Linked DNA regions of Homo sapiens: region 1 is linked to region 2. Evidence: fine-mapped expression QTL. A gene starts in region 2. The other region holds a variant in brackets. All regions are shown on one strand. Distances are between the middles of the regions.

The links.
Region 1: its variant is fine-mapped to the expression of TAC1 in subcutaneous fat (GTEx, PIP 0.91).

The regions. Positions count from the first base shown.
Region 1 is chr7:97,259,234-97,276,146 of GRCh38, reverse strand. LOC124901704 (a long non-coding RNA gene) reads left to right here and starts at 3,560. Exons shown (of 3, transcript XR_007060445.1): 1 at 3,560-3,690. RefSeq lists an enhancer at 5,978-6,498. The variant A/G (reference allele first, on the strand shown) is at 9,095.
Region 2 is chr7:97,722,829-97,739,741 of GRCh38, reverse strand. TAC1 (tachykinin precursor 1) reads right to left here and starts at 7,656. Exons shown (of 7, transcript NM_003182.3): 1 at 7,547-7,656; 2 at 7,007-7,138; 3 at 5,923-6,019; 4 at 5,450-5,494; 5 at 4,893-4,916; 6 at 3,390-3,443. The coding sequence starts at 7,129. RefSeq lists an enhancer at 7,298-8,497.

The sequences.
Region 1 (16,913 bases), 460 kb after region 2:
CCTTGCTCTGTAAAACAGTTTTGCACTGTAAGAAAGGTCAGTACTTTGCCCAAAGTTATAAAGCTGCTAGGAACCAGAGCCAGGACTCAAACTAGCCCTATCCTGTAAGTAAAGAGAAGGCAGTGTGATTTGTCCCCAACCCCAAATTTGAGAGCTTTTCTGGCTCCTTCCTGGGAATTTCACTTTAAAGCCTTCTGACTGACACCCCTCCAAACACAAACACACACACACACACACATACACACACCACACACACACACACACACACACACACACACACACACAGCTCAGGTCAGACCTGAGTACCTAATTCTTCATTCTTAATAATTAATAAACAACCAAAATCACCAGACATATAGAAAAACACAGCTACATGAAAGGAAAAGAAACCAGACTATTTAACCTTGTACGTAATTGTTATAGAAACAAAACAGAGCTTAAGATGGGGGGAGGAAGCCCTTAAGAAGTCAAGAAACTTGAGAAGCTATTTCAACCATAAAACAAGAACAAGATACTAAGGAACCAATTACAGAACAAGGAAGAACTTTAAAAAGTTAAAGTAATTGCTCTAGTAAAACAATTCAGTAAGACGGATTGAAAAACAAAGCTGAGAATGGTTCCCAAACACAAAGCAAGAAGACAAAGATATAGAAAATATGAAATAAAGAAAAAAAAACAAAAATGAAATCAGAAGGTCTACCATTTGACTAACAGTGACCCCAAGAAAAGTGAATGGAGGAAATGGAGTGAAAGAAGTTAATAGGAAAATTAGAGAAAAAAAATTTCTGGCCACAGAGAAGGCACACAGAGTGCTGAATACAGTAAATAATATACTTTTTAAATCCTAGAAACATCCTGATGAAATATTAGGCTGCCAAAGATAAAAAGAAGACAGTAAAAGTTTCCGGAGAGAAGAAAATCAATAAGAAACAATTGAGAATCACATGGTTGTTATTTTTAAAACCAACGTAATAATGGTGGATTACCACAACCTTAATGTTATAGTCCCATCCATCAAGGTCCCTTTAGCCAATACCCAATATTGTTCAAATTGCTCATCCAATTCAATCAGGAACTTCTAAATATTTTACTCTCATAGACTGGCTAACATGTTTTAGTGCCTACTTCAACAATCTCTCAGCTGCAGTTTGCCTCTACCGCCAAAGGGACACAATATACCTTTTCCAGGCTACTCATGGGGTAGGCCTCAACAGTTTGGTCATCATGCACAGTCTCTGCAGACAAGTTCTTAATTACATCCATCATCTCCAGGAGCACAGTTACAGCATTATGTCAATGCTGTCCTCCTCCAATGAGGTTCATATGATACACTCTTTAAGGACATACAAGTCAATATCTTTTCTTACTTTTTGGGTTCTGAAGGCAACGTATTTACCATTTACAAATTAAAATCAGCAGGCACTCCTATTAATGCCCTCATTAATTTCCCTTCTCCTTCTCTGCACTTGAGAACCTCAGATTAATTCTGAGGCTTTGGCAACCTCTTCTCATGCTTCCCAAGATCTCCAAACCACTTCTGATGGCTATAAGTTGCTCTAGAGCCTCTGATGCAAAAATCTGCCTCTTTTGGCCTCAGGGTATACACCATTAAAACAATAAATGACTGTCTACCCACTGCCCTCTACTAAAAATACAGATTCTTGTTGACCTCGAGCCTGTGACACTCTATACCCAGGTGCTCATTATGCATTAGGTTATAGAAACAGCGCCCCACAAGCTCAGCATGGCTACTGAGGCCTCAATACAGGATGGAACCAAACCTGGGGCCTCTGGTATATTCCACCTGAAGGAGTTGGCTTCCCTTGTCCCCAGTTTCTTGCCAGATGCCAGAGTACTGGGGAAAGTCATTCCTCCCCCTGACCTCTTGACTATCTGGAAAGCCCCTTAGGATAAACTGAGTGAACAGTAACAAGAGTTTGTAGACTATGCATGCATGTGGCACTCTTAACTATCATATGTGATGAGCTTAGTGGAATACTGCCACTTTCTATCCCTTAGCCGTCATGTCCCTAATAAAGAATGGGACCCAAAAAAACACATTTAGCCAAACCTAAGAGAGCTCTCTTAGTACTGGATGTCCTGGTCTCATCTTCACTTTCGTTATAAACCCTTGGGTCATTACCTAAAACTTGTACCTTTCAAAATTTAAAAAAAAAAAAAATCTGGGAATCTCTCGCCTCACAACACCCAAAAGTTTATTTTATCCAGGTCTTGGCCTATCTTTATAAATTTTCAATCTTGCCCCCATTCCACAAGGGCTGGAGGCCAGATGGAAGGCACATACTTTCCTGGGACTCATTAATAATAGATTTTCCTATAGGCCAGGCATTTGCTCATCTGATAGATAACCCATTTACATCTAAACTTCCACATGCTCAAAACAAACAAACAAACAAACAAACAAAAAACACCCTGTCAGATGCAGCTGCACACCATTCTGTTGATGGCCTTATCACTATTGGTTTGGGCATTTATACTGATTTGCAATCCAGAGGCCTACATCAACTTAAGTAGGTACTCACTTAAAAGGATACCCCAGTCCTACAATCCCACACAAGCTTGCAAGGGCCCAAAATAATGCTTCAGCTGTCATTGCCTAAGATGACATTGCAAGACCATCCCAAGACCTTATTGTTGGAGATGACTTTGCCCCCTGTGCTGGAGACTTCACCTCTTACACTAAAGTCTCCACTCAGCAACACCCATGGGCTGCCTGTCCTAAGGCACAAAATTGACACGTTTAAAATGTTCTTTCTGAACTCACTGTCTGCTTAGCCCGTGATCCTGGTATAGTCCTTGTTCTCTTCTAAAATACACCGCTACACTTCCATGCCTAAAGGAAAACCTGATAGAGGTTACTAAATTAATGATGATTATTGCTTTCCCCAGGAGGCACCTATCTCATATTAAACAACCCCTTGGCCCCCTGGGGAGAAGACTGACTACTCTGTGGTGCCTTCTCCTACTGTAACCCCATCCAGCTTTCTACCACAGCCTCTTGACTTGCATCTCCAACCACAACCACTCCTTCCCCTTGGCTAGACACAATACCACTAATATTTACATATACTTTGCTCAATTATTAGTTCATAACCAACAACATAACTGCCATACTGAATGCTTACTTTCTTGGGAATGATATTATTCTCCTTGCAGTCAATATCTTCACCACTCAAGCTACAACTGTCTTACATTTAAAATATCATGCCAGGGCACCCAGAGGTGGATTGTCATCAATTTGTTTAATAAAGTGCTGCCTCAGCACCCATTTTTAGGACTGCCATAAGTTATTTGAAGCCCAGTCATATACTGTCACCTTTGGCCCAGTTAAAACTTTCCCTCCCTGTGTGGTTGTTTGCAATACAGCCCGTTTTTTCCTCATCTCATTGAACCAAACCCAACATATTCCACAGGTGCTGCCGTGATAAAACTTAATGGTTAACACCAGAGTCTTGTAAACAAGTTCCCCAATTCACAAGTGTTTTCTTTAAAGTAAAAAATTCACAACCCCTGAGGAAAGTGTAAGGGCTAACACCCGTGCACCTTAATAAAGACCTGGCCCCACAGCTCTTCTCTCTGTCTCTTGCTCCCCACCCGTTGGTTGAGCTCCCTGCCACCTCTAGCCTTCCCGTCAGCCTCCTGTTGACACCCCTAACCTCTATGTGATCTGTAAGTAATAACCTTCTTGTGTTTCATGCATTTGGTTTTACTTCCTCATTTTGTCTCACCTGCCTGATACACCCGAATCTAACTTTCTCCTAGTCAGGGCTCTCCTAGAAAGTGGTTATCTTGGTTTATGGTCACTCTTGAGAGAAAGACCTCAAAATCAAATTAAAAGTAAACCGTAACAATAGAAATCATAACAGTGACTTTTGCTATTAAGAAGGCAAATTTGCTATTAATAAGATGTACTATAATAGGAAAAAGCTATAACCCATAGACACATCTAACCATAGACACACTCAAAGCGTATCAATCAGCCCTCTGGATGGAAGCGTCTCAGAAATTAATCGAGAGTAGTTTTTGGCTAACTGCCTATGCTGATTCTCTGACGTTACAGAGCAGTGCATTCTAAGGGGACAAAATGACTTTATCAATCAAGGAAGAGCATGAATAAAGCCATTTTCAGACAAGCAATGACAGAAAATTTAGCCTTTCCTCAAAAGTCATTTAAAGATGTATTCAAAATGCAGGAGGGAAGGAAGAAAGCACAGTTTAAGAAAACTGTATAGCTCCAACCCAAAACGGCCAGGAGCGGGGATTCCTAGGACGATGGTTATGCAGTGAGCCTAGAAAGCAGCAGGTACAGACAGGAGCCAGAGGCTGCTTCAGAAGGGAGTTTTCAGGGACAGGGCTACTACAAACAATTGAAAAAATGCGTGAAAAGTGAATCCACATGATCATGAAGTTGCAACATTCTCCCTGGTGTATGGATCAGTTGGGGATAGTAACCCTGGACCCCTGAATAAACCCTGCACTTATCTCCAAACTACTAGTTGGTATTATATTAACAATTAATTGTTTGGTTATTCCACTTTCAATTCATACATGATACGGAGTGGGTGTAGGATAGAGAGGGATGGGGAGACTACAGCTTCTCAATTTTAGCTCTTTGTATTATTTAATTTGATACCATTACATATTTTGATTTTTAGAAATTTAGGTTGATAGAAATCACTAGGTATAACAAAATTTTAATATCGTCTGTTTACAAAATCTTCACTCCGAAACTCTCACTGTATTTTTCCATTAGTTGTATTCGTGCTGCCTCAGTTTTCTGGGAAAAGCCATTTTACCTTCCAAAAGGAATTGTCTTTCGCTTTTGGACAGAAAATAAGGCACTAATTACCTAATCCCTTCCCAGGAACTAACTTCATATAAAGACTAAAATGCCAGTACGGTTTTGATCCTTGAACAATACAGGTGTTAAGGGAAATAATCCAACACACAGTCAAAAATCCATGTGAAACTTTTGAACTCAGTAATTCCAGTGATAGTCTCTGTAGTAGTAAGTCCCCAGCAGGTCAGAACTGGGATCTGGAAAGTATTTCTGGAGACCTAGGCTAGCTTCTACTCTTTTGCCTGCCCTATACTTTCCTAAGCACTGATTCCTGCTATTAAATCTCTTCCTGATTAGTAATTGAAAGAAGCCATCATTTTTCTGCAAAGAACCTTAACTCCAAAGTTGTATTTGGTTCATTCTCTTTCATTACACCCCAAGCTAAGCAGTAAATAAGTCCTGCCAGTTCTTCTGCCATAATTTTTGTGCCCAGCCACTCCTTTTCCTTTCCATATTTTTATAATGTAAAGGGAAGAGCAACCTTGGATCCTAGAATCAACTGGCGGCCTTGCTATTCCTAAGCTATGTTTCTTTGGAGAAATCACTTAATTTCTTGGAATATTCCACAGTTGTAAAAGGAGATTGTTGCCAGTTTATAAGATATTGTGAAAATTAGAGATACTATTTGATGCTCTGCAAAAATCATCTGGCCTAATTTTTGGTATTTAGCCTTAGCCATGCTATTATTATTAAACTCCTACCTGCTCTTCTTGTTCTTGGATCTTTCTCAGTCTAGCTCTGGAAAGAGAGTATGTCCCGAGTATGTTTTGAATAACCATGGAAATACAAAAGTAGCCCTTGACCTCAAGGAGGTTTCATTTTAAATAACAAAACTGAAGTTTTCTGAAAAGCATGACTCAGATTTGAAAACAGAAAAAGTGACCTGAGATTGGTTTTGGGGGTTTTAGACTAAGAACCTTTTTGGTGAAATCAATGGAGGAATTTTTAGTGTTGATGATCTCTCTGACCAACCAGTGATTGAATTATTTTCCCTCAGTGTCTGAGATAAAAAGATTAACTTCAAAACTCAAATTATATTTGCTTTTGGAAAGATGGAGTAAGTATATTTTTCCCTATTCCTCCTGATAAGTGCAACTGAAATCTCTGGAAACAGTGTAAGACAAACAAGAAAATGCTGAAAGGTAGAGAAAATAAGCTGGCCATTAGGGAATATGGGAATAAAGAACAACATGGTGATGAGTTATCTGGGTATTTTTCTTTGGCCTCAAATATTTCAGACTGGAATGAGATTACCATTTGAGTTGGGAGCCTGAGTAAAGCAGATTGTTTTCCCTAATGTGGGTGGGCCTCATCCAATTACTTGATAGTCTGACTAGAACAAAAGGGCTGACCTCTGAGTAAGAGAGGATGTTTTCCTGATTGATGGCCTTTGAAATGGAACATTGTGTTTTGTTGTGCTGTTTTCCTGGCTTTGAACTCAGCTGAAACATTGATTCTTCCTGAGTCTCAAGCTGGCTTTTGGCCTGGACTACATTAGTGGTTATCCTGAGTTCTCAGGTTTTGGGGGGACTAGATTATTGGGAATGAAGAAGGAAGAGAGTAAGGAAAAATATGGGTAAACACTAGGCTTTCCTTCTCCTCCTAAGTTTTCTAAATTATGTTTGGTTGTGGAAGAAAAAAGTATTGGCCAGGTGTGGTGGCTCACGCCTGTAATCCGTTTATTTTACTAATAACTTCCCTACCTACCCCCACATCTACTCCTTGACACTCAAAACAACCTTCCCCTCCCCACCATGGATAACTGATACTTGACTTTTGTGGTAATAATTTTCTTGCTTTTCTCTACACTTTTCCCACCTAAATATGAGCTGCTATACACTATAGCTAGGCTTTCCAGATTTTCAGTGAGATTATTCTTAATCTCAATTATGTAAAGAATAATTTCATTTATGTAAAGATTAAACACCTGGAAAGCTAAGCTACAGTGTTTAGCAGTTCATACTTAGATGGGAAAAGTATAGAGAAAAACAAAATTATTACAATTTTATTACAATGTTGCTTACATGGATAAGTTCTCTATTTGTAATTTCTGAGCTCATAGTGCACCCGTCACCCAAGCGGTGAACATTTTACGTGATATTTAGTCTTTTATCCCTCACCCTCTCCCAACCTTCCCCCGCAAGTCCCCAAAGTCCATTGCATTCTTATGCCTTTGCATTCTCATAACTTACCTCCCACTTATATGTGACAACATAAGACATTTGGTTTCCCATTCCTGAGTTACTTCACTTAGAATAATTGTTGTTCATTTTTATTGCTTGACAGTATTTCATTGCATGTCTATTCCTCAATTTATTTCGTTTTATAATTAACATAATTCTATATGTTTATAGCATAAAATATGATATTTTGATATATGTATACATTGCGGAATGTCTAAACACCTTACTAATACTTTTTTAATCTTGCTAGTTATTACGGTAAAGGGATCCCCCAAGGGACACCATCATGACATAGCAATTGTAAATCCTAGGTTATATCCTGGAGTTTTTAAATGGTGCATCTACTCTCCACTCTTAGAAAGGTAGGTGATTTCCCAATTACTCTTTTCCAGGGGTCTTCTCCCCTCTCATTATCTTCATTTTCCACTTCCATCCACCTTCCAAAGACCACCAAATTCAATGTGGCATTCCCATTTGGCATTCTTGTTGTCCGAAAGAGGAAACCCTAGGTTATGCGTGGAGAAAATGAGTGTAGCCTGGAGACAGTGGCAGATTATTTCTCTCTCATGGCCCTCTTAGATTTTAACATGCCTCCCCCATGACTCCCTGCCAAGACCCTTTTATTTGCAAAGGTACCTCTATGGTCTCAGCCTCCAGACTTTGGATCACTTCATCAACTTAGAAACACTGGGGATTCTGTAGAAGTAGAGCTATAAAAGCCCTTTGAAGTCTAGAAAGAGTTTTCCATAATTCAGGCAGAGTATTCTTACTGGTTCCTACAGTAACGTTTCAAATGATGAAGAATGTTTCCACTGACCTTTCCTAGGCAACATGCATGCTAATAGTTCCAGTAGGAAATGTCTTTGCATGGCTTGGTACACTTAACAGGTGATTTACCAATGGTAAGAACAGAAGCAACAGACTTAATCTGGAAAATAATTTTAGTTGCAAAATGAGTAATAGTTCTTTTTCACAAATTAACTTTTATTGGCACTGAACTGGTACCAATACTGTATTTCATGGGAAATAAAGAACTCTGAGTAAATTTTTGAGCTCCTTATCTGTGAGCCACTGACCCACATTTCCTCCTTGAGTACACATACCCAAACCTGACCACTTATCTATACGTTTCCTTTCAAAAGAGTGCTGTGGGCCACTGCGCTTTCTAATAATAAAACTATTACACACTTCTTGTAATAATTTAGCTATATGAAAGTATGTGATATAAAATTAACTCTTGATTTTAATTAATCTTTCTATGCTTACAGGAAATATGTATATACACATATAAGGGTCCTTATATTTCTATTTTAATTTAAAAATCCAGACTATACATATTGTCCTAAATTTTTTCATATAACATATAGTAGACATTTTTCCAAATCAATCCTTTTTTGACCACATATCATAAATCACATATGCCACATATCATCTGAGTTTCTTATAGTGGAGAGGAACCCTCACATTGCCAGAAGCAGATAGAGCAGGTCTCCAGATAGCATGTGAGGACTACCATGTGCCTGTCAGAAATCCACACATTCGGCCAGGCGCGGTGGCTCACACTTGTAATCCCAGCACTCTGGGAGGCCGAGGCGGGCAGATCACGAAGTCAGGAGATCGAGACCACGGTGAAACCCCATCTCTACTAAAAATACAAAAAAAATTAGCCTGGTGTGGTGGCGGGTGCCTGTAGTCCCAGCTACTCGGAGAGGCTGAGGCAGGAGAATGGCGTGAACCCGGCAGGCGGAGCTTGCACTGAGCCGCGATTGCGCCACCGCTCTCCAGCCTGGGCGACAGAGAGAGACTCCGTCTCAATAAAAAATAAAAAGAAATAAAAAGAAATCCACACATTCATGATTAACATTTTCACATATACCTAGTCGTCTGTTTTTGGTGATAATGAAATAAAACCCCCCTCAACTAGAGCTCTTAATTGCTTGAGAGTAGAGTTGAGGATAAGGAGAAAATACTGGGGCTCTAAAAAGGGGAACCAACTTACAACTCTTAAATTATAATCAAACTAGTGGCCCCAATGTATTGAGTATTTACT[A/G]TGACATAAGCATTGTGGTCAACAATTCACATACATTCTCACAACAACTCTATGAAATGGCTGCTATTTTCCCATTTACAGGCAGGGGGCTGGGACATTGAGAGGTAACTTGCTCGAGGTTATCTGGCTGGTAACTGATTACATTTTCAATTTTTTTTTTCTGATAAAAAAATATAATAGTACAAAACAATTTACAATAGAAGATAAATACCAATTCTGCCCACCCAAACGTCAGTTCTGTTATATGTCAGGGATAACTTCTTTTAACTATTTCTGGTTTTATATTTTCTGACGGTTACATAGCAATAAGTTATGATTTAACTCTGTATTTTGAATTAACACCTTTGGGCATTGTCTACTGACTCCTAACTATGAAAGATGGGAATTTAAGTCCTTATGTTACCCCCCAAACTGCCCAACTCTACTCTACATTTTTGACATTTATATTATCTTCATCTTACTGTATACTTTTATGATATGGAACATACATAATCAATGCTTATGACTTTTATTAAAATGTTTCAAAAAACATTCAAGTAGAAAGAAAAAAGATAATAGCCAGTAGAGTTTCTACTCCGAGATGCTTAACTATGAACATCAATTCTCATTGATATAGAACCTCAGATATTTAAATTATGGTTAAGAAAAATGTACTGTATACTTCCAAATAGCTAGAAGAGAATAATTGTAATGCTCCCAACATAAAAAGATGTTTGAGCTGAGGTGATGGATACCTCAATTACCCTGATTTGATCATTACATATTGCATGCAAGTATCAAAATACCACCTTTACCCCTAAAATTTTAGTGTACAACTATTATAGATGAGTAAAAAACTTTTTTTAAGAAAAGTTTTCATCTACCAGCAATGACTAAAACTCTAAAAGAAAGTAGAATTTAAAACTTGAAAGTAAAAAAAAAATCAGATATAGAAGTGTTTAGATAAATTGGATATCACATGTGAAATTCTAGAGTAGATGCTGAGTCTTTTTGAGATTTTTGCTTCCCCATTCCACTTCTCCTCAATTGATCAATGTAAACAGTTTCATGCATGTGTTTTCACACCTTAGATGGTGGTTTTAACATCAATGATGTATATAAATGTAGACCTATGCTTTGGTGGTGGGGAGGAGACTGTCATTGCTTTTTTTTTTTTCCATGTGATAATCAATCATATACATTCCAGAGTCTTGCTTTTTGTCACTCAGCTATACATGATGGAAATCTCTTCAAGTCTACTGTTAGAATTCAAGCTGATTATGTGTTTATTTTAATAAATATTAAGTTCCTTTCCAAAAGGCTATAACACTTCCTATTTTCATTAGCAATATGAGTACCTTCTTCGCCACTTTCCCCAGTTAACTGCAAGCTCCATAAGGACTGAGGTTTTTTTTTTTTTTTTTTTTTTTTGAGACGGAGTCTCGCTCTGTCGCCCAGGCTGGAGTGCAGTGGCGGGATCTCGGCTCACTGCAAGCTCCGCCTCCCGGGTTCACGCCATTCTCCTGCCTCAGCCTCCCAAGTAGCTGGGACTACAGGCGCCCGCCACTACGCCCGGCTAATTTTTTGTATTTTTAGTAGAGACGGGGTTTCACCGTTTTAGCCGGGATGGTCTCGATCAAGGACTGAGGTTTTTGTCTCTTGTTCACTGCTGTATCCTCAACACCTGGAATCATGCCTGGCTCATGTAAGGCACTTAATAAATATGTGTTAAATAGAAGAATGCATGAATAAAGAAATGCCAGAACTAGGTTCTCATTCTTGTTAATTTTTGCCATTGTGATGAACAAGAAGTGATACATGTATATTACTTTAATTTGCATTTTCCTGCTTTTTAGGGAGGTGAAACATCTCATGTTTATTAACCTCTGGGTTTTCTCTTATGATTAATTGCTTTTTCATAGCACTTGTTCACTTCTCCATTGGGTTATCTTTCTCATATTGATTTACAGCAGCTTTTTGTAAATTATGTCTACTAACCTCTTTTTCCATCATATATATTACAAATATTTTTTCACAATTGGCATTTGACTGTGGGTGTGGTGTTTCTTACCACACAAAAAGTATTAAATTTTTCTATAGTCAAGTATTTCCATTTCTTCCTTTTGGGTGTATTGGTAGCCAGGCCCAGTGGCATGCACTTGTAGTACCTCCCAGCTACTCAGGAGGCTAAGGCAGAAGGATTGTTTGAGCCAGGAGTTTGAGATTGTAGTACACAATGATGGTACTTATGCATAGCCACTGCATTCCAGCCTGGGCAACACAGTGAGACCCCCATCTCCTAAAAAATGATCAAAATGCAAACATACAAATTTTTTTTTTTTTTTGAGACAGAGTCTCTCTCTGTCACCCAGGCTGGAGTGCAGTGGCACAATCTCGGCTCACTGTAAGCTCTGTCTCCTGGGTTCATGCCATTCTCCTGCCTCAGCCTCCCGAGTAGCTGGGACTACAGGCACCCGCCACCACGCCTGGCTAATTTTTTTTCTATTTTTTAGTAGAGACGGGTTTTCACCATGTTAGCCAGGATGGTCTCGATATCCTGAACTCGTGATTCACCTGCTTCGGCCTCCCAAAGTGCTGGGATTACAGGCATGAGCCACTGTGCCTGGCCCAAACATGTAAAATTTTAAAAACTACCTAGTTCCTATTTTATGCTTACAGTCTCTGAAATTTTTTCCAGATTTATATTCTGTTTTAGTAAGTTTATTTTTACATGTCCTTATTTAAACTGTGTGTGTTCCAATAAAACTTTGTTTGTAAAAACAGGCAGTGGGCCAGATTTGGCTCACGGGCCATAGTGAACTCTTATTAGAACGCATCAGGGTGATAAAAATTGCAGGGAGGAGCCAAGATGGCTGAACAAGAATAGCTCCGGTCTACAGCTCCCAGCGTGAGCGACACAGAAGACGGATGATTTCTGCATTTCCATCTGAGATACCGGGTTCATCTCACTAGGGAGTGCCAGACAGTGAGCACAGGACAGTGGGTGCAGTGCACCGTGCGCGAGCCAAAGCAGGGAGAGGCATTGCCTCACTCGGGAAGCGCAAGGGGTCAGAGTTCCCTTTCCTAGTGGAAGAAAGGGGTCACAGACGGCACCTGGAAAATCAGGTCACTCCCACCCTAATACTACGCGTTTCCAATGGGCTTAAAAACCGGCTCACCAGGAGATTATATCCCACACCTGGCTCAGAGGGTCCTAAGCCCACAGACTCTCGCTGATTGCTAGCACAGCAGTCTGAGATCAAACTGTAAGGTGGCAGCGAGGCTGGGGGAGGGGGCGGGGCACCCGCCATTGCCCAGGCTTGCTTAGATAAACAAAGCAGCCGGGAAACTCGAACTGGGTGGAGCCCACCACAGCTCAAGGAGGCCTACCTGCCTCTGTAGGCTCCACCTCTGGGGGCAGGGCACAGACAAACAAAAAGACAGCAGTAACCTCTGCAGACTTAAACGTCCCTGTCTGACAGCTTTGAAGAGAGCAGTGGTTCTCCCAGCACGCAGCTGGAGATCTGAGAACGGGCAGACTGCCTCCTCAAGTGGGTCCCTGACCCCTGACCCCCAAGCAGCCTAACTGGGAGGCACCCCCCAGTAGGGGCAGACTGACAACTCACATGGCCGGGTACTCCTCTGAGACAAAACTTCCAGAGGAACGATCAGACAGCAGCATTCGCGGTTCACGAAAATCCACTGTTCTGCAGACACTGCTGCTGATACCCAGGCAAACAGGGTCTGGAGTGGACCTCTAGCAAACTCCAACAGACCTGCAGCTGAGGGTCCTGTCTGTTAGAAGGAAAACTAACAAACAGAAAGGACATCCACACCAAAAACCCATCTGTACATCACCATCATCAAAGACCAAAAGTAGATAAAACCACAAAGATGGGGAAATGACAGAGCAGAAAAACTGGAAACCCTAAAAAGCAGAGCGCCTCTCCTCCTCCAAAGGAACGCAGTTCCTCACCAGCAACAGAACAAAGCTAGACGGAGAATGACTTTGACGAGTTGAGAGAAGAAGGCTTCAGACGATTAAACTACTCCGAGCTACAGGAGGAAATTCAAACCAAAGGCAAAGAAGTTAAAAACTTTGAAAAAAATTTAGACAAATGTATAACTAGAATAACCAAGACAGAGAAGTGCTTAAAGGAGCTGATGGAGCTGAAAACCAAGGCTCGAGAACTATGTGAAGAATGCAGAAGCCTCAGGAGCTGATGCGATCAACTGGAAGAAAGGGTATCAGTGATGGAAGATGAAATGAATGAAATGAAGCAAGAAGGGAAGTTTAGAGAAAAAAGAATAAAAAGAAACGAATAAAGCCTCCAAGAAATATGGGACTATGTGAACAGACCAAATCCAAGTCTGATTGGTGTACATGAAAGTGATGGGGAGAGTGGAACCAAGTTGGAAAACACTCTGCAGGATATTATCCAGGAGAACTTCCCCAATCTAGCAAGGCAGGCCAACATTCAGATTCAGGAAATACAGAGAACACCACAAAGGTAGTCCTCGAGAAGAGCAACTCCAAGACACATAATTGTCAGATTCATCAAAGTTGAAATGAAGGAAAAAATGTTAAGGGCAGCCAGAGAGAAAGGTTGGGTTACCCACAAAGGGAAGCCCATCAGACTAACAGCGGATCTCCCGGCAGAAACTCTACAAGCCAGAAGAGAGTAGGGGCCAATATTCAACATTCTTAAAAGAATTTTCAACCCAGAATTTCATATCCAGCCAAACTAAGCTTCCTAAGTGAAGGAGAAATAAAATACTTTGCAGACAAGCAAATGCTGAGAGATTTTGTCACCACCAGGCCTGCCCTACAATAGCTCCTGAAGGAAGCACTAAACATGGAAAGGAACAATTGGTACCAGCCACTGCAAAATCATGCCAAATTGTAAAGACCATCGAGGCTAGGAAGAAACTGCATCAACTAACGAGCAAAATAACCAGCTAACATCATAATGACAGGATCAAATTCACACCTAACAATATTAACTTTAAATGTAAATGGACTAAATGCTCCAATTAAAAGACACAGACTGGCAAATTGGATAAAGAGTCAAGACCCATCAGTGTGCTGTATTCAGGAAACCCATCTCACGTGCAGAGACACACACAGGCTCAAGATAAAAGGATGGAGGAAGAACTACCAAGCAAATGGAAAACAAAAAAAGGCAGGGGTTGCAGTCCTAGTCTCTGATAAAACAGACTTTAAACCAACAAAGATCAAAAGAGACAAAGAAGGCCATTACATAATGGTAAAGGGATCAATTCAACAGGAAGAGCTAACTATCCTAAATATATATGCACCCAATACAGGAGCACCCAGATTCATAAAGCAAGTCCTGAGTGACCTACAAAGAGACTTAACTCCCACACAATAATAATGGGAGACTTTAACACCCCACTGTCAACATTAGACAGAGCAACGAGACAGAAAGTTAACAAGGATACCCAGGAATTGAACTCATGCTCTGCACCAAGTGGACCTAATAGACATCTACAAAACTCTCCACCCCAAATCAACAGAATATACATTTTTTTCAGCACCACACCACACCTATTCCAAAATTGACCACATAGTTGGAAGTAAAGCTCTCCTCAGCAAATGTAAAAGAACAGAGATTATAACCAACTGTCTCTCAGACCACAGTGAAATCAAACTATAACTCAGGATTAAGAAACTCACTCAAAACCGGTCAACTACATGGAAACTGAACAACCTGCTCCTGAATGACTACTGGGTACATAATGAAATGAAGGCAGAAATAAAGATGTTCTTTGAAACCAATGAGAACAAAGACACAACATACCAGAATCTCTGGGACACATTCAAAGCAGTGTGTAGAGGGAAATTTATAGCACTAAATGCCCACAAGAGAAAGCAGGAAAGATCCAAAATTGACACCCTAACATCACAATTAAAAGAACTAGAGAAGCAAGAGCAAACACATTCAAAAGCTAGCAGAAGGCAAGAAATAACTAAAATCAGAGCAGAACCGAAGGAAATACAGACACAAAAAACCCTTCAAAAAATTAATGAATCCAGGAGCTTGTTTTTTAAAAGGATCAACAAAATTGATAGACCGCTAGCAAGACTAATAAAGAAGAAAAGAGAGAAGAATCAAATCGATGCAATAAAAAATGATAAAGGGGATATCACCGCCAATCCCACAGAATTACAAACTACCATCAGAGAATACTACAAACACCTCTATGCAAATAAACTAGAAAATCTAGAAGAAATGGATAAATTCCTGGACACATACACCCTCCCAAGAGTAAACCAGGAAGAAGTTGAATCTCTGAATACACCAATAACAGGCCCTGAAATTGTGGCAATAATCAATAGCTTACTAACCAAAAAGGGTCCAGGACCAGATGGATTCACAGCCAAATTCTACCAGAGGTAGAAGGAGGAACTGGTACCATTCCTTCTGAAACTATTCCAATCAATAGAAAAAGAGGGAATCCTCCCTAACTCATTTTATGAGGCCAGCATCATCCTGATACCAAAGCCTGGCAAAGACACAACCAAAAAAGAGAATTTTAGATCAATATCCTTGATGAACATTGATGCAAAAATCCTCAATAAAATACTGGCAAACTGAGTCCAGCAGCACATCAAAAAGCTTATCCACCATGATCAAGTGGGCTTCATCCCTGGGATGCAAGGCTGGTTCAATATATGCAAATCAATAAATGTAATCCAGCATATAAACAGAACCAAAGACAAAAACCACACGATTATCTCAATAGATGTGGAAAAGGCATTTGACAAAATTCAACAACCCTTCATGCTAAAAACTCTCAATAAATTAGGTATTGATGGGACGTATCTCAAAATAATAAGAGCTATCTATGACAAACCCACAGTCAATATCATACTGAATGGGCAAAAACTGGAAGCATTCCCTTTGAAAACTGGCACAAGACAGGGATGCCCTCTCTCACAACTCCTATTCAACATAGTGTTGGAAGTTCTGGCCAGGGCAATTAAGCAGGAGAAGGAAATAAAGGGTATTCAATGAGGAAAAGAGGAAGTCAAATTGTCCCTGTTTGCAGATGACATCATTGTATATCTAGAAAACCCCATTGTCTCAGCCCAAAATCTCCATAAGCTGATAAGGAACTTCAGCAAAGTCTCAGGATACAAAATCAATATAGAAAAATCACAAGCATTCTTATACACCAATAACAGACAAACAGAGAGCCAAATCATGAGTGAACTCCTATTCACAATTGCTCCAAAGAGAATAAAATACCTAGGAATCCAACTTACAAGGGACGTGAAGGACCTCTTCAAGGAGAACTGCAAACCACTGCTCAGTGAAATAAAAGAGGATATGAAGAAATGGAAGAACATTCCATGCTCATGGGTAGGAAGAATCAATATCGTGAAAATGGCCCTACTGCCCAAGGTAATTTATAGATTCAGTGCCATCCCCATCAATGACTTTCTTCACAGAATTGGAAAAAACTACTTTAAAGTTCATATGGAACCAAAAAAGAGCCTGCATCACTAAGGCAATCCTAAGCCAAAATAACAAAGCTGGAGGCATCACACTACCTGACTTCAAACTATACTACAAGGCTACAGTAACCAAAACAGCATGGTATTAGTACCAAAACAGAGATATAGATCAATGGAACAGAACAGAGCCCTCAGAAATAATGCTGCATATCTACAACTATCTGATCTTTGACAAACCTGAGAAAAACAAGAAATGGGGAAAGGATTCCCTATTTAATAAATGGTGCTGGGAAAACTGGCTAGCCATATGTAGAAAGCTGAAACTGGATCCCTTCCTTACACCTTATACAAAAATTA
Region 2 (16,913 bases):
AATGTTATCTGCACATCTTCCAATCCTGCCTCAGTCTCTATTCTGATTGGAAATGATCTAACCACAGAACTCGGTTTCATTCATCATTCATCATATACTTGGTGCCCCCAAAGCATATTTCCACAATATATTGCAGTGTTGATTCTCAGCAGCTTTCTCAAGCAGTGGCAGATACCCATAGTGAATTCTAGAAAGGACAATGCCTAAAATAACCAGGAATACTAGTAGGATAAAAACCAAATGTGGGACTTTTATTCTAGCAGAGACCATGGGCCAAATCTAGAATACCATTTGTTCTTGTAAAGAGGTTTATAGGAATACAGACACACTCATTCATTTACATATTGTCTATGGCTGCTTTGGCCTAAAATAACAGATTTGGGTAGTTGCAACAGAGATTACATGGCTCACAAAGCCTAAAATATTTATAATCTGTTTCTTTTCAGGAAAAGTTTGCTGATCTTTGTTCAAGGGGCATCTAATTGTGTAGGGGTCTCTTCCTACCTTGTGGATACCTCCCAGTGATGGACTGCCCTCAAGACTAAAAACAGCCCATTTACCATAGGTAAGTCAGTTGAGCCATCTAAATACCATACTGTTTAACTTTTCACTAGCACCTTAATGGCCTGTGAAGCATTAATTATTGCTTCCAAAGGTATTTAACATATAGCTAGCAAGTAATTTAAATACATTGATTATCTGGACAAAAAAATGCCAAAATTGTATATTATATTATATTATATTTATTATATATAATTTCAAAGGGATCTGTAACCACAAAGGGGTAAAAATCAGACTGTTGCAATAAAAGTATTTTGGGATATTTTTCATCCTTAACGAATACCTTATAGACTTAGACGTATGGTATAGTGGAACTACTATGCTTTTTGAAATTCAGTATGGCCTGTATAAAATACTGAATGTAAACAGAAAGAGTAGAAAGATCTGTGAAGGATCTGTAGGAATAATAAGTGCTACTCTAAACAGTTTCCTCAGTGAGAAGATTTGCTGACAGAGAAGACAGGTAAAGGCACCAGTATTATCACTTCCCTCTTTTAATACTGGTCTTAAACACCCAGCTATCCTTTAAGTGCGGTTAACAATAAGCTGCATATTTTACATCAATTAAGTATGCACTTGTGAGGCAGAACAGTCTGAGCCAACACTGGACAGGCGTGAGGGAAGGAAACAGTTTATTTCTCATTCTGGTTTGATTATATTAGGAACAGGATGAATGGCCCAAGTTCAGTCTCTGACAAGCTTTAGGTAACATGACTCTATTCCTCAGAGAAATTAGATGAAAGCTAATGTAAACCAACTAAAGACAGACAGTGATTTAGCTGGAACATAATGTCCTCTTACATGGAAGCAGAGTTTCTTACCTGGTCTTTGAACCCTCTGAAGCCTGATATAAATTTTTGAGTGTATGAGCTGATGAGGGTTTCTCTGGGAAAGGGCATCTATCTAGATTTATCAGATTGTCAAAGGGGTCCCTGACCATGAGTGGGTAAAGATCAGAGGGCTATAGATTAAGGCTATGATAACCTTGCCTCAATGAGGTACATAAAAAGATCCCTGATTGACTGTGGATCATATCACATTTTTTTCCACATTTCACCTATTTATATTTCCTTAACTAAAATGGAGGAACAAAGATTTAGTTATAAATTGATCCTGATTCACTACAGTGATTTTTATCACTACTTAAAATTATGTTATTATTTTAAGTACATTTAATTGTATTTAATCTGTTCTAACTTGTACAATATCTACATTTGTAAAGTTAAGCATGTTCTGAAACCTATATCAATTCTGGAAATGGAAAGTTGATGACTAATATGATTATCAAGAAAACTACAATTAAGTGAGGACTAGTATGTATTGGTACAAATAAAAGCCATTGTGGTTTAAATTTATATTTCATTTCCAAAAGTGGGAAGATAATACATATTAATAAAACAATTACAAGTTTTTCATTAAGGCACATTGATAATTTCTTACACTTTTACACTTCGGCAGCCCAAAATGACTGGTGAGAAGATGCAAAGGTAGTGTCTAAATAGAAAGTGGGGACCCAATAAGAACACTAGGAAGTCCTGTGGACTTCACCAAGAACTTCAAATTCCAGATTTATTGGAAATTTTGTATCAAAAGGTCAATTATGAAACACTTAGAACTTTTCAATTATATGAATATATTCTCTGGCTTCTGCCGTAGCCCAGATTGTGTTAACTTTTTTTTTCTATTGCGCGTTTTGATTTTTGCCCCACAGAAAGTGGTTTTATTTAATGTACCCAAGTCTTACATTTCACAATAAAGAAAAAAATCTCCATTAAAAAACACTAGGATAATTATTTTTCCTAGGATCCAGATAATTAAGGATTAAGCCAGCACATCTTATAGATTGTCTAGAAACTGGAAATATTCTAAATGGGTAAGACAGCTGCTGATTACTTTATAATTAATAACGTATTTAGTATTTTAATTCTATTTTCACTGAAGGCAAAATAGAATTTGAATAGCTTTTCCAAGAAGCCCTAGAGGTAAGAGCTATAAGGTCTTAACAAAAAGTGAGCTTCTATTAAAATGATCTAGGGGTTATTTACATTGAAATCAGTGTGATGAATGAGTTAACTAATAATGGTTTTCAGATATATGTACGTGGTATTTACAAAGAAGATGGAAATTGAAGAGAAGGAAACCTGCAGCCTTTATATCATACGAAAAAGTTGTTCAGAATTAAAATGAGAATTGTGGCATCCTTTCTCTCTAAGGAGTTTATAGCCAGAACCAATTTATAACACTCAAGGATATTTAATTGTGTTCCTTTTTGAAAGTACTGGAATAAACCGTATCACTTTTGTCCTCTCCAACATCCATCAGGATGTTTAGATTTTGAATTTCTACAACTTCATAAAAAGTGATTAATTTGCATAAAGAATTTGTTTTGTGAATTTATTTTTGTATTGGAAGATCGCCAAATGTAATGTCTTGTAAAACTTTCAAATTACTTTGATAACAAGTGAAAATCACCCTCATTCTTCCCTGCACTCCCCACTCCCCCTTAGTTCAGTAAGGTTAAACACGGCTTATTTAACAGATCTATAGGAAAGAATATAGCACTAACCCAAAGATTCAGGTTGGTAATGATTAAATGGGGCAGACACTGGTAAGAATGGTGATTGGAGAGAAATAGACAGATACTGTGGTAGTATTAGCTTAACCAGCTATAAATCCATTTGTGGTTACAAGTACAACAATTAAATTTTTCCACCATAATACTCATTTTTATATCTACCACTCCTTTTTAATATTTTAAAACTATGTCTTAGAAAAAATAGAAATAGATTTGAGATACTGTCTATTTTCAGTCATAATTTCATACATACCAGAATTTAAAGCTCTTTTGCCCATTAGTCCAACAAAGGAATCTGTTTTATGTCCTGGAAAAATACATTTAGGGGTATTTTAATATGTATATCTTTGAGGAAACAAACTATTATAACCAGAACAAAGCAAGCTTCTGAATATATGTCTGTATAATAAATATCTATCTACTTCAAGTTTTGGTGAGACTGAAGAAATAAAGATTCCTTAAAAGTTTTATAAATTACACTAAAACAATACAATGAAACCACTTTTCTTAATTCTATATTTAATATTAGCAAGCACTCTCTATTCATATATTTTATCTGTTATGTAAGGGTCTAAAATATTTTATATAAAATATTGTTATTTGAGCTAGGTTTGATTTTTTAGGAAGTCAATTTCACATTTGTGTGAGAGTGAAATATCCAAGCATAATTCCTTGTGTTATTAATAAGTTGTACTTCTCAGCAAGTAGACCTTAATTAAACCAGATTCCTTTCCTTGATGATTATAATCTTCTAAAAGGTCACTGTTTTTATTTTATTGGATATTAAAAGATACTCCTTTCAGAAAAGTTTATTAGTTTTCACATGAACAGAGTACATTTTTTATTACATAGAATTTTTATATATAATTCTCTTCAAAGTCAAATCCTTAGAAAGTAAATATGAATACTATTTATTTTTCAAAGATGAACTCTTTGGAAAGGTTACTATTTTAATGCTAGTGAGAGAATTTCTCTTGGTTTTTATTTTAATAGTTGAGAATAGAGCTGCTACGTTAATGTGGCCTGCTCTGCCACCCAATGAACCAAATCCATGACAGGGTACAATAGGTGAGTGGACAATACGATGAAGATAGACCCTTTCCACTTCTTGTCAACTCCGGTTCCATTAACTGAGAAACAAATTTAATGACCTTCACATACCACAATTTTGCCATCTTTGCTGCCCTAAGAAATGTTTTACTGATCGAGTTTTCCCATTCAATTAGGGGATTAAAAAACTGCATCTCTACCGTCTTCATTTTTAGTATGGATTCTCTACTCATGTTCACTCACTCATTCCATTTAATTGGCTGCTGGATGACCCTAATAAATGACATCATTATTGGACCAAGCATACTAAAATGAGTTAGGAGATGCCTATAAATGCTTGTGGGGGTTTCGTGTTTGTTTGTTTGTTTGTTTACAGTGAAAGTAAGCTTAGGGGGTGGGTGGCTGGGAAGAAATATGTATGGTAGATTTCTAATCCTAGGATTGAAATTCTTCTCTAAAACTAACAATTGAAGGGACTTAAAAGACATTTTTTTCTTTTTTAATATAATGCATCTCTTTGCTAAGTACAATATGTCTAAACAACCATATTCTGGATGTAATATGAATCTCCCCCATTCTTATATTGTCTTCATTAAACATATTAAGCCCTAGAGTCATGACAGAAAATAAGGTAAGATAAATAAAGTGAAATTCAATATAATTTTACATTTAAATTTGATAAATGTCAAAATAATTTTGAACTTACTTTTGTGAGAGATCTGGCCATGTCCTAGAAGAAAGATAAAATTAGCAAACACATATAGATTTGTTTTTAAAGATGCTACATTATATCTTTTATAAAATAATTTGATTCTCAAAATATGTAACATTTTCTATCTATATATTATCCTGAGGAATAAAGCAGAACCATAAATGCTAAACAAATTATTAATCATAAAAACTAAATATTTAAACAAACAAATGGAATTTTTATTAAGTGCCTTCTATGGGATTCAAACCTAGGACTATGAGACTTCTGAGGCCTCTTATTAACTATAAGACTGTAACACATCCCACCTTCAAGGCTGGCCACCCACTGAGAGAGAGAGAGAAAGAGAGAGAGAGAGACTGAGAGAGAGTGACAGAGAGAGAGAGACAGAGAGAGTGACAGAGAGAGAGAGAAACCGAGAGAGAGTGCGCAAATCCATCTCTTTATTAAACAGGCATGACCCAGATCTTGTATTTCAGCCCATAAAAGATTTTATTTCACTTTCCTACATGTGCTTTCACAATAGTAAAATAAAGATTTATAGGAATGTTTACCATAAAGAGCCTTTAACAGGGCCACTTGTTTTTCAATTGAGGAATCTGACAAGAGACGAATTGTCATTAACTACATGTTCCACTGACCGTGCGATGAATTCAAGGAAACGATATTTCTATCCCAAGACAAATGTACTCTCACCTCAGGGAATGCTATAAAATCCTCTTCCACATGCACTTGGATCATCCGCAGTACTACCCCTGGAGGCCCGTGCCTTCCCTTTGTCAGTTTGGATCTTTAGTCAAGGGAGCGCTTCACTCGAATACAGTGAGGCATGCGAACCAGATCTTTCCCTCCCCCCGCGGGCCCGTGCGTGCCTTAGTGCGGTGTGGGCCAATGTCGCGCCTGGGGAATTACACCCCTCTTGGAGTGGAAATCTCTATTCAGAGCGAGAGACCCTGGGGTACTCCAGGAAGGAGTGAGCAGACAGGGCGGGCTGCCCAAGACACCTAGGGACGGTCGCCTATCTCACCAGCATCCCGTTTGCCCATTAATCCAAAGAACTGCTGAGGCTTGGGTCTCCGGGCGATTCTCTGCAGAAGATGCTCAAAGGGCTCCGGCAGTTCCTCCTGGGAGACAAAAGCACGGACAAAGGGCGTGTAAGGCAACCAGAGCGAGGCACCCAGCAACCCGAGCCCTTCCCCCCGCTGTACTCCGGCCCCGAGGCGTGGGGAGGCGGCCTTCCCCACGCTCGGGCTGAGCGGGGTCCCTCCCGAGGCGCTGCCTCTCTGCGCCCCTCCCCGCCGAACTCGCGTCCCGCCCCCCGCAAGCCTGCCAGGGCGAGTTAGCAGCTGGCTCGGCGTCTTCAAGCTTCGAGCGCTTTCCGCTCTTTCCTCCCAGCCCGGGGACCTTCCCTCATCTGCTGCGCCGCCACCTGACTTTGTCTTGTCTCGGTGCCGGCTTTGTAGAGTCCTCACCGCCCTAAATGCACACAGGTGTGTGGGATCTGGGGCTGGGGCTCCGGTGGGGAAGGGTGACAACGCTTTACAGACGACTTTCACCGTTTTTCCGAGGCGCGCTCCCCAGCGCCTGTAGCCTACGAGTTTCTAAAGGGAGACTTCAAGCTACATCCTCAGGTCCGCAAAACAAACGTGAAGGCAGGAAATTAACTTCCCTCCAGCCTCCGGCCCTCCAATCCCCCTGCAGCTCGCGCGTGTGCCCGCTGCTGCCCGCGACCCAGGCGCCCTCCTCTGCCCGTGCCCAGACGCTAGGGCAGTGCAGCTGGACCGGAGCCCCCGAAATCCCAGGTCCTGGGGGATGAAATCTTACGAGATTTCCCGCCTTGTGAGGATCTCGGGCTCATCCGGGAGGGCATCCCTACTGCAGGGAGTTCCTGGGCCGGACGGTGCAGCCCTCGGGAAGAAACTTGAATCGTGGGCACAAAATCCCGTGGGGAACCCGGGAAATAGTGCCCCTTTCCATCCTCTCGCACGCAACCGCTGCCTCTTTCCGTGGTGGCGGTGCGTGCCACGTTAACTAGGGTGCTGTTGCGTGGGAAGGTGACAGCTCCCGAGCCCAGGAAGAAGGGTGCGGGCCGTCCTGGGAAGGGGCCTCACCTTGATCTGGTCGCTGTCGTACCAGTCGGACCAGTAATTCAGATCATCATTGGCTCCTATTTCTTCTGCAAACAGCTGAGTGGAGACAAGAAAAAAGACTGCCAAGGCCACGAGGATTTTCATGTTGGATTTCTGGGAAGGGGTAGGAGGAGAAGACACCAAAGAGAGAAATAATGTATCTATTAGGGGTGGTTATCCAAGAGTTAAAGCAACAGAATTTTCTGCCCCACAACGGATGAACCAAGATCAAAAACATAAGGACTGAAGTCTCACCTGTACCGGTTAGGCGAGAGAATCGCGTCCCAAAGATTCTCCAACCCTCTTCTCCCTGAATCCCAACTCCCCCAGCCCCCTAACCCACCAACCCACACCTTCAAACCAGGAAACTCTGCAGGTGGAAGACAAAGAGGGGCGTTGGCGTTTGGGAAGCCAGTCTCCCCACTGTCCCTCGCCGCAGCGGCGCCCCCAGCGCGGCCACCTCGGACAGATGCGGGGCGGGGTGACCCGGGCAGCCGCGGCCAGCACCGCGCGGGCACTTACTGCGACGGACAGTCCCGCGGGGTGCTGAGTTTCTCTGGTTCCTCCGAGCGCACGCTGGTCGCTCCGCACTCTCGGTAGCTGCCGCCGGGAAGGAGGTCCGAGCGCGCTCTTTCGCCTGCTCAGTGCCTTGCGGTATTTATCCCAGCCTCCTTGAGCCTCCAGACCCACGTGACATTCTCCCCACGCGACTTTCTGCTCAATATTTAATTAGCCGCCTCCTCTCCTTTCGCTTGCGTGATTGAGAGTTTCCGAGACGGTAACTCGTCGATGCCCATAACATCTGGACCCAATTGGGTTCTAAATGACGCAATTTTAGGAAAATCGAGGTCTCGCCATCCAATCCGGAGCGGCCTGCTTCCGTCTGCAGATCTGACGCCCCCTCCCCTCTCCTTCGAAACTGGGTTTCATGACACCTGATATTACTCATCAAATTTGAGCAAAGTGACTCATTCCTTGGACTTCGGTAACTTTTCCGTCCCTCGAGACGTCAGGATAAGTTGCACTTTTCAGGATGGCCAAATAACTGTAGGCATTCAGACATTTCGTCGGAAATCAGGCTAAAAAAAGAGGACTACACTTGAGGGGAGATGCGGGGAAGCATTATTTTCCCTTCTATTTCTAGCTTAATAGTATTTAAGTGTTTCTGAGACACAGCATCGTTCTATAACCAGAACATCCCTCTTCTAAATCAACGCGAATACTGGCTTTTCCTTAGCATAACAAAAGGATGTTTAGTCCCATAGTATTTTAGAAGATGGAAGCAGATTTATTTTACATTTTGGAGAAAGGGGAATTTAAACATGACATTGTGTGTCAGACTTAGGATTTCTTTTGTTTCAAGCCGGGTAACTCCTCTTCCTTGCCACATCCAGGAGCAGGGGTTGAACAGGACGTTTTTTGCTTCTCTCCTACACTTTCTTGCTGAAGACTAGGAAACCAGCAACATAGTGTGTAGGATCCTCACCCTTGTCACTAAAGGGCTCTATAAATCATGTTTCTCCTTTCTATGAAAGTAAGTGTAGTGAAGATGCTAATGGGACAGTCATTAACAGCACAAAATATTAGACAAATAGCATTTGTACAGAAACCACACCTTTCCATGAGCCCTTGGTTGCCTGGCAGACACATTTCTTTGATCTCCAAATGAATTAAAAGATGTGACATCTTTGGTGGAGTAGTTTTCTCCCCTTTACATATGAAGTATTATATTTTTCAATTAATTATGATTTTTTAGTATATTGCATAAAAGAAATAAATTTTTGCAACTCAAACCAGAAGTATTTTTTTCTCTATGTTGTTCTTAAATAATCCTGAATTTGGAAATTCTCATGCATCTCTGATTTCTTTTGGCCTTAGCCTCACAATGTGAGCATTTTATTTTCCGTTTTCAGAACTTTTATATGGAAAATTATAAGCATATCCAAAAGTAGAGAGAAACATCCACTTCCAAGTTTCATCTACAACCCTTCCAGTTTCCTCTGCACTGAGATTATTTTGAAAAAAATCCCAGACAGTTAATCATTTCAACTGTAAATATTTCAGCATGTCTGTATAAAGGTAGGAATTAAAAAAAATAAAAACATATCCACGCCATTATCCCACCTAAAACAACATAAAATAATTCCTTACATTAAATATCCAGTTAGCATTCAAATATTTCTCATTGCTTCCTAATTCCGGCCCACACAGTTTACTACTTGAAATCAGAATTATAATGAAGTCCATACATTACAATTGGTTTTGTTAGTTCAGGCTGCTGTAAGAAAGTACCATGGTCTGGGTGACGTAAACAACAGAAATTTATTTCTCACAGTTTCGAAGGTTGGAAGTCTGAGATCGTGGTGTCAGCATGGTCTGGTTGTGTTTAAGGCCCTCTTCCAGGTTACAGACTGTCATATTGTCTCCTTGTTATATCCTCACATGGCAGGAAAGAATGAGAGAGCTCTTCAAAGTCCCTTTTATCGGGGCACTGATCTCATTCATAAGAGCTGCACCATCATGATCTAATTATCTTCCAAAGACCCCACTTCCTAATACCATAACCTTAGGGGTTACGATTTCAACACATGCATTTTGGAGGGACACGAACATTCCTTCTACTGCATGTTTCTTAAATCTCCCTGAATCTGTAATTCGCTCTCTCTTTCTCTCTCTATTGTAGTTTATTGATAAGACAGGTCAGGAGAGTGTACCGCATTCTGGACTTTGCTGATTGCCTTTTAACTTGTTTCTCTGTTTCGATTATTTCCTGTTAATTGGTAGTTGTATCTAGAAGTTTGATCCTCTGTACATTTTTTTCTTTTTCCTTTTCTTTTTCTTTTTTTTTTTTTTTGATGAGACTACTTCACATGTGTTGTGTTGTTCTGGTAGGAAGCACATGATATGTGGTTGTTTCTCCTTTTGAGTTGTTAGCAGCCATTGACTATCATTTTCTAGATCTATTAATTCATTAGTATTTTCAAAACAGTGCTATGTTGATTTTATCATTCATTATTTGTCTGGTAGGCAGACTTGTTTCTTTCATGTTTCTCAGCAACTAGTTATTCTAAAGCATTATTAATATAGGAAAGATGGGATAAATGCTTGATTATGTCTCTCTACCAATTTTGAAAATAATGAATTGGTAAATTAACACCTTTTAATAAGACCCACTTTAAAAAATTAGGATTATTATGACTTCCTGGATTTAAACACATTTGACATACAGTCATCACTCAGTATGCATAGGGGATTGGCTGTAGGACCTCCTGTAGGTATCAAAACCTGTGGATGCTCAAGTCCCTGATGCAAAATGGTGTGGTATTTGAATATAACCTATGCACATCGTCTCATATATTTTAAATAATCTCTAGATTACTTATGATACTTAATATAATATAAAGGCAGTGTAAATAGTTGTTATACTGTATTATGTGGGGAATAACACAAAGGGAAAAAGTCTGTATGTGTTTAGCACGGATGCATTTTTTTCTAAATATTTATGACCTATGTTTGGTTAAATCTATAGATGCAGAACCCATGGATACAGGGGGCCAACTATATTTCAATCCATGGCAGGCATTCTTCTAATTGAAGTTCAGACCTATTCTTGGCCTGCAGGTGACTCTTCAAAGTGACTCCTGAGACTTTATGCCAATAGGCTTTGATGGCTTTTTCTTGTTTTTGGTATGACAAAATGTTTCGGGTCAAAGTTATATACGTTTTGCTTCTGACCCGAAATCTGCCTTTAAGGGGCCCTAATTTTAGAATTGAAAATGACCATTAGAGATCATAAACTGGGCTTTATTTTTACACGTTGTTAGTGAGTTCTTCATTGCTTCAAGACCTTTTCAGCAGACAGAGCTGAGAACAATGTGTGTGTGTGTGTCTCTCTGTGTGTGTGTGTGTGTGTGTATCTATAATCATGAATGTATACCGACTTTCTTTTCAAATCAGGATCTCATAGAGTTTTTAATTAACCTTTTGCATCTCTTTTTCCATACTCCAAATGACATCAACATGATTATTCATTAGCTTTATCCCAATACATGGTGCCAATATGATCAACAATATCATTACTGGAAACAGATTAAGAGTTTTTGTTTGCAGTTTTGTTCTTTTTTAATCTTTAGAGCATATCACACCAGGTATGTTCGGTCATATTACTGTGTTATAAAGTCTCTTTACAAGTTCTTTGTATGGTTATGCTACCAACTCTTACACAGGTAGATTCATTTTCTCATTCTGCTCAAGTTATAGGGATCATTTTTTAAAAGTAAGTTTAGAATTATGTAAAATACATGGTTCTAAACTCAAATATTAAAAACATTATGTGGCCGGGCGTGATGGCTCACGCTTGTAATCCCAGCACTTTGGGAGGCCGGGGTGGGTGGATCACAAGGTGATGAGTTTGAGACCAGCCTGGCCAATACAGTGAAACCCCGTGTCTACTAAAAATACAAAAATTAGCTGGGCGTGATGGCGGGCGCCTGTAATCCCAGCTACTTGGGAGGCTGAGGCAGGTTAATTGCTTGAACGCGAGAGGTGGAGTTTGCAGCGAGCCAAGATGCCACTGCACTCAGCCTGGGCAACAGAGCTAGAATCTGTCTCAAAAACAAACAAACAAACAAAAAACATTATGTATTGAAAGAAGTGTACCTTCAGTCCCTATCTCTCTGCTCTCTTATGTCTAGTAACCATTTCTTTTTAGGTTTTTGGTTTAGGCTTATATTGCTATTGTTGTTATTTTAATATAAGAAACGATGTGATAATTTCCCCCTAAATCTTGTAAAATTCTATACCTGAAGTGGGACATTTTAGAAATTTTTTTAATTTCTCAGATACTAATGTGGTTTATGGTTTATGAGGTAACAAGACAGCTACTTTATAATATCTAAACTGCTAGTTCTGTATAACCAGTTGTATAATTTTATTCAGATGCTGTATGTTGTAAATGTGCCATAGTACATAAAATAGAGGTTATTTCACAGAATTGAGTAGTAAACAATAATGAGATAAAAGGTATATCCAAGAATACATTTCCCACATTCCCCACATCATTCATTAATTGCTAACTTAGGGATCCTACTAAGACATGCACGTTTTGCACACTTTCCCTTTGAACATTGTAGAGGTTGAGATATTTGCATTCTTTATTACCTGTTTTATTTCCTAGGATAAGTTTATGAAAAAATACATATTAATAAAGTACATATGTTTAATGCATGCTAAATTCATGATTAGTAGACTGGTGAACAAGTAATTCATTAATACCTCATTTTTTATGTTGCAAATTAAATTTGCAACATAAATTAAAAACCCGGACAAAAGTAAAAAAAAAATTACTATTGTCCATTTTCTCATCACTCAAAAGGAACCACTGTTAACATCTTGGTATACTGCTTATAATATTTACTTATTTATGTATAATTATTATTGTTTTTTGAGACAGAGTCTTGCTCTGTCTTTCAGGTTGGAGTGCAGTGGCATGATCTCAGCTCACTGCAATCTGTGCCTCCAGGGTTCAAGCAATTCTCCTCAGCCTCCCGAGTAGCTGGGATTACAGGCATCCACCAACATGCCTGGCAAATTTTTGTATTTTTAGTAGAGATGGGGCTTCACCATGTTGGCCAGGCTGGTCTAGAACTCCTGACTTCAAGTGATCCGCCCCCCTTGGCCTCCCAAAATGCTGGGATTACAGATGTGAGCCACCACGCCCAGCCTGCTTACAATTTTTAAAGGGAAAAAGTCACCTGATTGTTTTTATAAAAATATTTTATGCATTTCGTACAATGTATGCATTGTACTTTGTATGCATTTTATACAATTAGAAGGATAGAGCAATAGACAAATAAAAGTTATGAAAATAGGATAAGACCCTAGTAACTATTTTTAACAAAAGATAGTTATTTATATTTTATTTGATATCAGTAGAAGAAAAACAAAACTAAAGTGAAGAATGTTTGTTCACCACAGGATTTTTTTTCATAAAAGAACTGACTAGTGCTAAAAAAGCAGGGTTTATTCATTTGGGTATATGCCAAGAGGTTCATTGCAGCACTGTTGACAATAGCAAAGATATGCAATCAACCTAAATGGACATCAATGACAGATCGGATAAAGAAAATGTAGTACATACACACCATGGAATACTATGTAGCCATAGAAAAGAACAAGATCATGTCTTTTGTGGGAATCTGGATGGAGCTGGAGGTCATTATCCTTAGCAAACTAATGCAGGAACAGAAAACCAAATACCACAGATTCTCATTTATAAGAGGGAGCTAAATGATACAAACTTATGAACACAAAGAAGGAAATAACAGACACTGGTGTCTGCTTGAGGGGGGAGGGTGGGAGGAGGGAGAGGAGCAGAAAACTACTGGGTACAGGGCTTAATATGTGGGTGATGAAATAATAGGTACAACAAACCACCGTGACACGTGTTTACCTATGTAACAAACCTCCACATGTACTCTCAAACCTAAATAAAGTTAAAAAAAGCAAGGTTTAGAGATAAACATGTAGAGGCTAGTATTAATTTGTAACATTAAAAATATATATTTATATAATATCAATTCCCTAATTTTGAAAGATGAGGATGTTAGCACTCTTAAATTTCTTCCCACTTTCCCTTTCCCCTATTTCCCAATTTTTGCAGTTACATAATTAGTTTACATTGTTCAAGTTTATAACATTCACATTCAGTATTGCTACCATACTTTTATTAGTTGTCTACTTTCACTGTATGTTTAAATACATTCCTTGTTCATTACCAGTTCTTTTAATCTCACTTTGCCATTCTTAAATTTATTTTTAATCATCTTTTATTTGACTGGATGTCATTGTCAAGAAAATTTTTCTTCTCCAAGAAGAAATAATGTGTATTGCATTTCCTGAGTTCTTTCATGCTAGTGAATGTCTGTTAGTGGTTTCTATGCTCAAATGACATCTTGATTAATTATAATATTTTTAGATTAAATTTTCACAGAACTTTATGGACATTGCTTTATTGTCTTGTGGAATTGAGTGTTATTGATAATTCTGAAGTGATACAGTTTTTCCCTGCTTTTCTGTTTCAATATCTGAAGAATTTTTTCTTTATCCTTGACATTCAATAGTTCAGCTAAGAAATATTATTGAGCATACTACCTCTAATTTTCTTGGAGTATCATGAACTTTTTTTGTTTTGTATAAGTAGGGACTTGCTCTTTAATATATTAAATTATTATCCTTCATTTTAGAGAAATTCTATTGTATAATGTCTTTGAATATATCTTGAAGTGGAATTTTTACTTCAATAATATTATGAAAATTTTCTTTGGATTCTCATATATATAATACTATAATATATATTATATTTCATGTCTATAATATTCTCCCAAATTTGCTTTAATTCTTTGTCTTTTTTATCTGCATTCATTCAGATTATCTCAGTTCTTTTCTGCCAGCAACGACTTTTGTCTATTCTGTGCCTTGCATTTTCTAATTTAGTTATCATTTCCATAATCGTGTTGCATAGTCCAAAATTTGTTCTCTAGACTGGTCATTTCCTTTATCATCTCATTTAATTTTTAAATTATTCTATTAGTATGCTCTTATTTTATTGAACTAATGTTCTTAAGGCCTTCTTAGAGTGAAGCGGGGGAATTGCATTCTATTTCCTGAGTTGCATTTTCTTCTAGTTCAGTGGTAAAATGCATGAGTTTTGAGCAAACTCTGCCAATCTTTACCGGCTTAGCCATTTGCTAGCATGTAGTCTTGCATAAGTTACTCAAGCACTCTCTGCCTCAGTTTTCTAGTCTGTTAAATACAAAAATAAACATTATCTACCTCATAAGTTTTGCTATGGGGATTAAATGAGTAAATACATGTGAAACGTAAAGAACAGTACCTAAGGGCCAGGCGCGGTGGCTCACACCTGTAATCCCCACACTTTGGGAGGCCGAGGCAGGTGGATCACCCGAGGTCAGAAGTTCAAGACCAGCTTGGTCAACTCAGTGAAACCCTGTCTCTATGAAATATACAAAAATTAGCTGGGCATGGTGGTGGGCACCTGCAATCCCAGCTACTCAGGAGGCTGAGGCAGGAAAATCGCTTGAACCCAGGAGACAGAGGTTGCAGTGAGCCGAGATTAAGCCATTGCACTCCAGCCTGGGCAACAAAAGCAAAACTTCATCTCAAAAACAAACAAACAGACAAACAAACAAACAAAAAACAGTACCTAGCACATGCATTGAATGTTAACTATTATTCTTCTTCTAGATTATTATTCTAGATGGATATGTGTATGTGCACCCTCATGTTTGTGTGTGATACTTAATTTTTTATGTCACTTTGATTAGGCTATGATGCTGAATTATTTGATTATATACATCTACATGTTCTTGTGAAGTTTTTTTTTAGATGTTATTAATATTTCAATCAGTAGACTTTGCGGAAAGTCATTACCTTCCATGATGTGGGTGGGCTTCATCCAATCAGTTGAGGGTCTTAAGAGAAAAAGACTGAGGTCCCTTGAGGATGAAGGAATTCTGTTTCCAGACTGCCTTGGGACTTAAGACCTGAAGACATCAACTTCTTGCTGGAATTTTCAGCCTGCCAGACAGCTGTGTGCATTTTAGATTTGCCAGCCTCCACAATTTGTGAGCCAGTTTCTTAAAATCAATCCCTCTTTCTCCACACACATCCTGTTGGTTCTGTTTCTCTGGAAAACTCTGACTAATACAGTATCTAATATATTTGCATAGTCTCTGGGCCATTTTCTCCATCTTGATGTTGTTTGCATGGCTCTGGGCAGACAGAGTGGGAGTGACTACTTGTGTTCCAACAATATCTGAGATTTATTTCCCCTCGTCTGAGGGCTAAGAATTTTGTGTTCAGCTTTACTTTCTTAGCCTGAGGGAGTGACAGAGGGAGCACAGGACTTGACCAAGATGCCCTGCAGTCTGAATAACTTGTCTCTGCTCTTTCCTCTGAGATTTTTGTGCAATGCCTTGTTCCATGTTAATTCCCTGGTTGGAGAGTCTATACTTCTCCTGCAGGAGACCCCATTATAATTTGATCTCTGGGTGGCCTGGGAGCCTCCTTCCATTCTTAAAGAGTCAGCTCTAGAGTGCTCTTCCCTGGCGTCACTTGTCTCCATTGCATTTAGGAAGAAAATAATGATCTGCCTACTGAGTTTTCTTTTCTCTATGTGTCACATCATTGATAATTCTCAGAATTTTGTCAACTCAAAATAAAACCTCTGGAGGGTTATGGAGGGGTTTGAAGGAAAGGGGCTCTGTGGAGCCAGGCAGTAATGACCCTCTCTGCTTCACTCCAGCATTTTGTTTCTTTCACTGGTTACTATTTTTGAAGAGTATCGTATCAATTAGACGCGACTCTTATTTGTTTGGTTGGTGATTACAGATTTTAATTTTTCTTTGAATTAACAATTTTTACCATACTTTGCAGATATGGGGGGGGGTCCTAGAATAGTGCCAGGTTTATATTATCTGACTAGTAAATGTTTGTAAAATTGTTGGATTTCATCTATACCAAGTTGGTGCACCAGTTCTTCACTGTTTTGTTGCCCCAGACTCCAGAACTTTAGAAAGTCTTCTGGAACATAGCTGTTGCTGCAAATATTACATTAACATAGTATGTTGTATGCAAGGCAAAGTCCCTTCTGTCTTTCCTGATACACTGACTTACCTTTTCGTATTATTTACCTGGGCAATCTTGCTGCTATAATCATCTAATTTTTTTCTTAATGCCTCATGGAAATTCTAACTTGCTTTATTAATTTTAGTCATATTTATATTTTTCAATTTTAATTCTTCTGTAGCAAATACACATAACATAAAATTTGCCATCTTAAGCATTTTAAGGGTACAGTTCTGTGGTA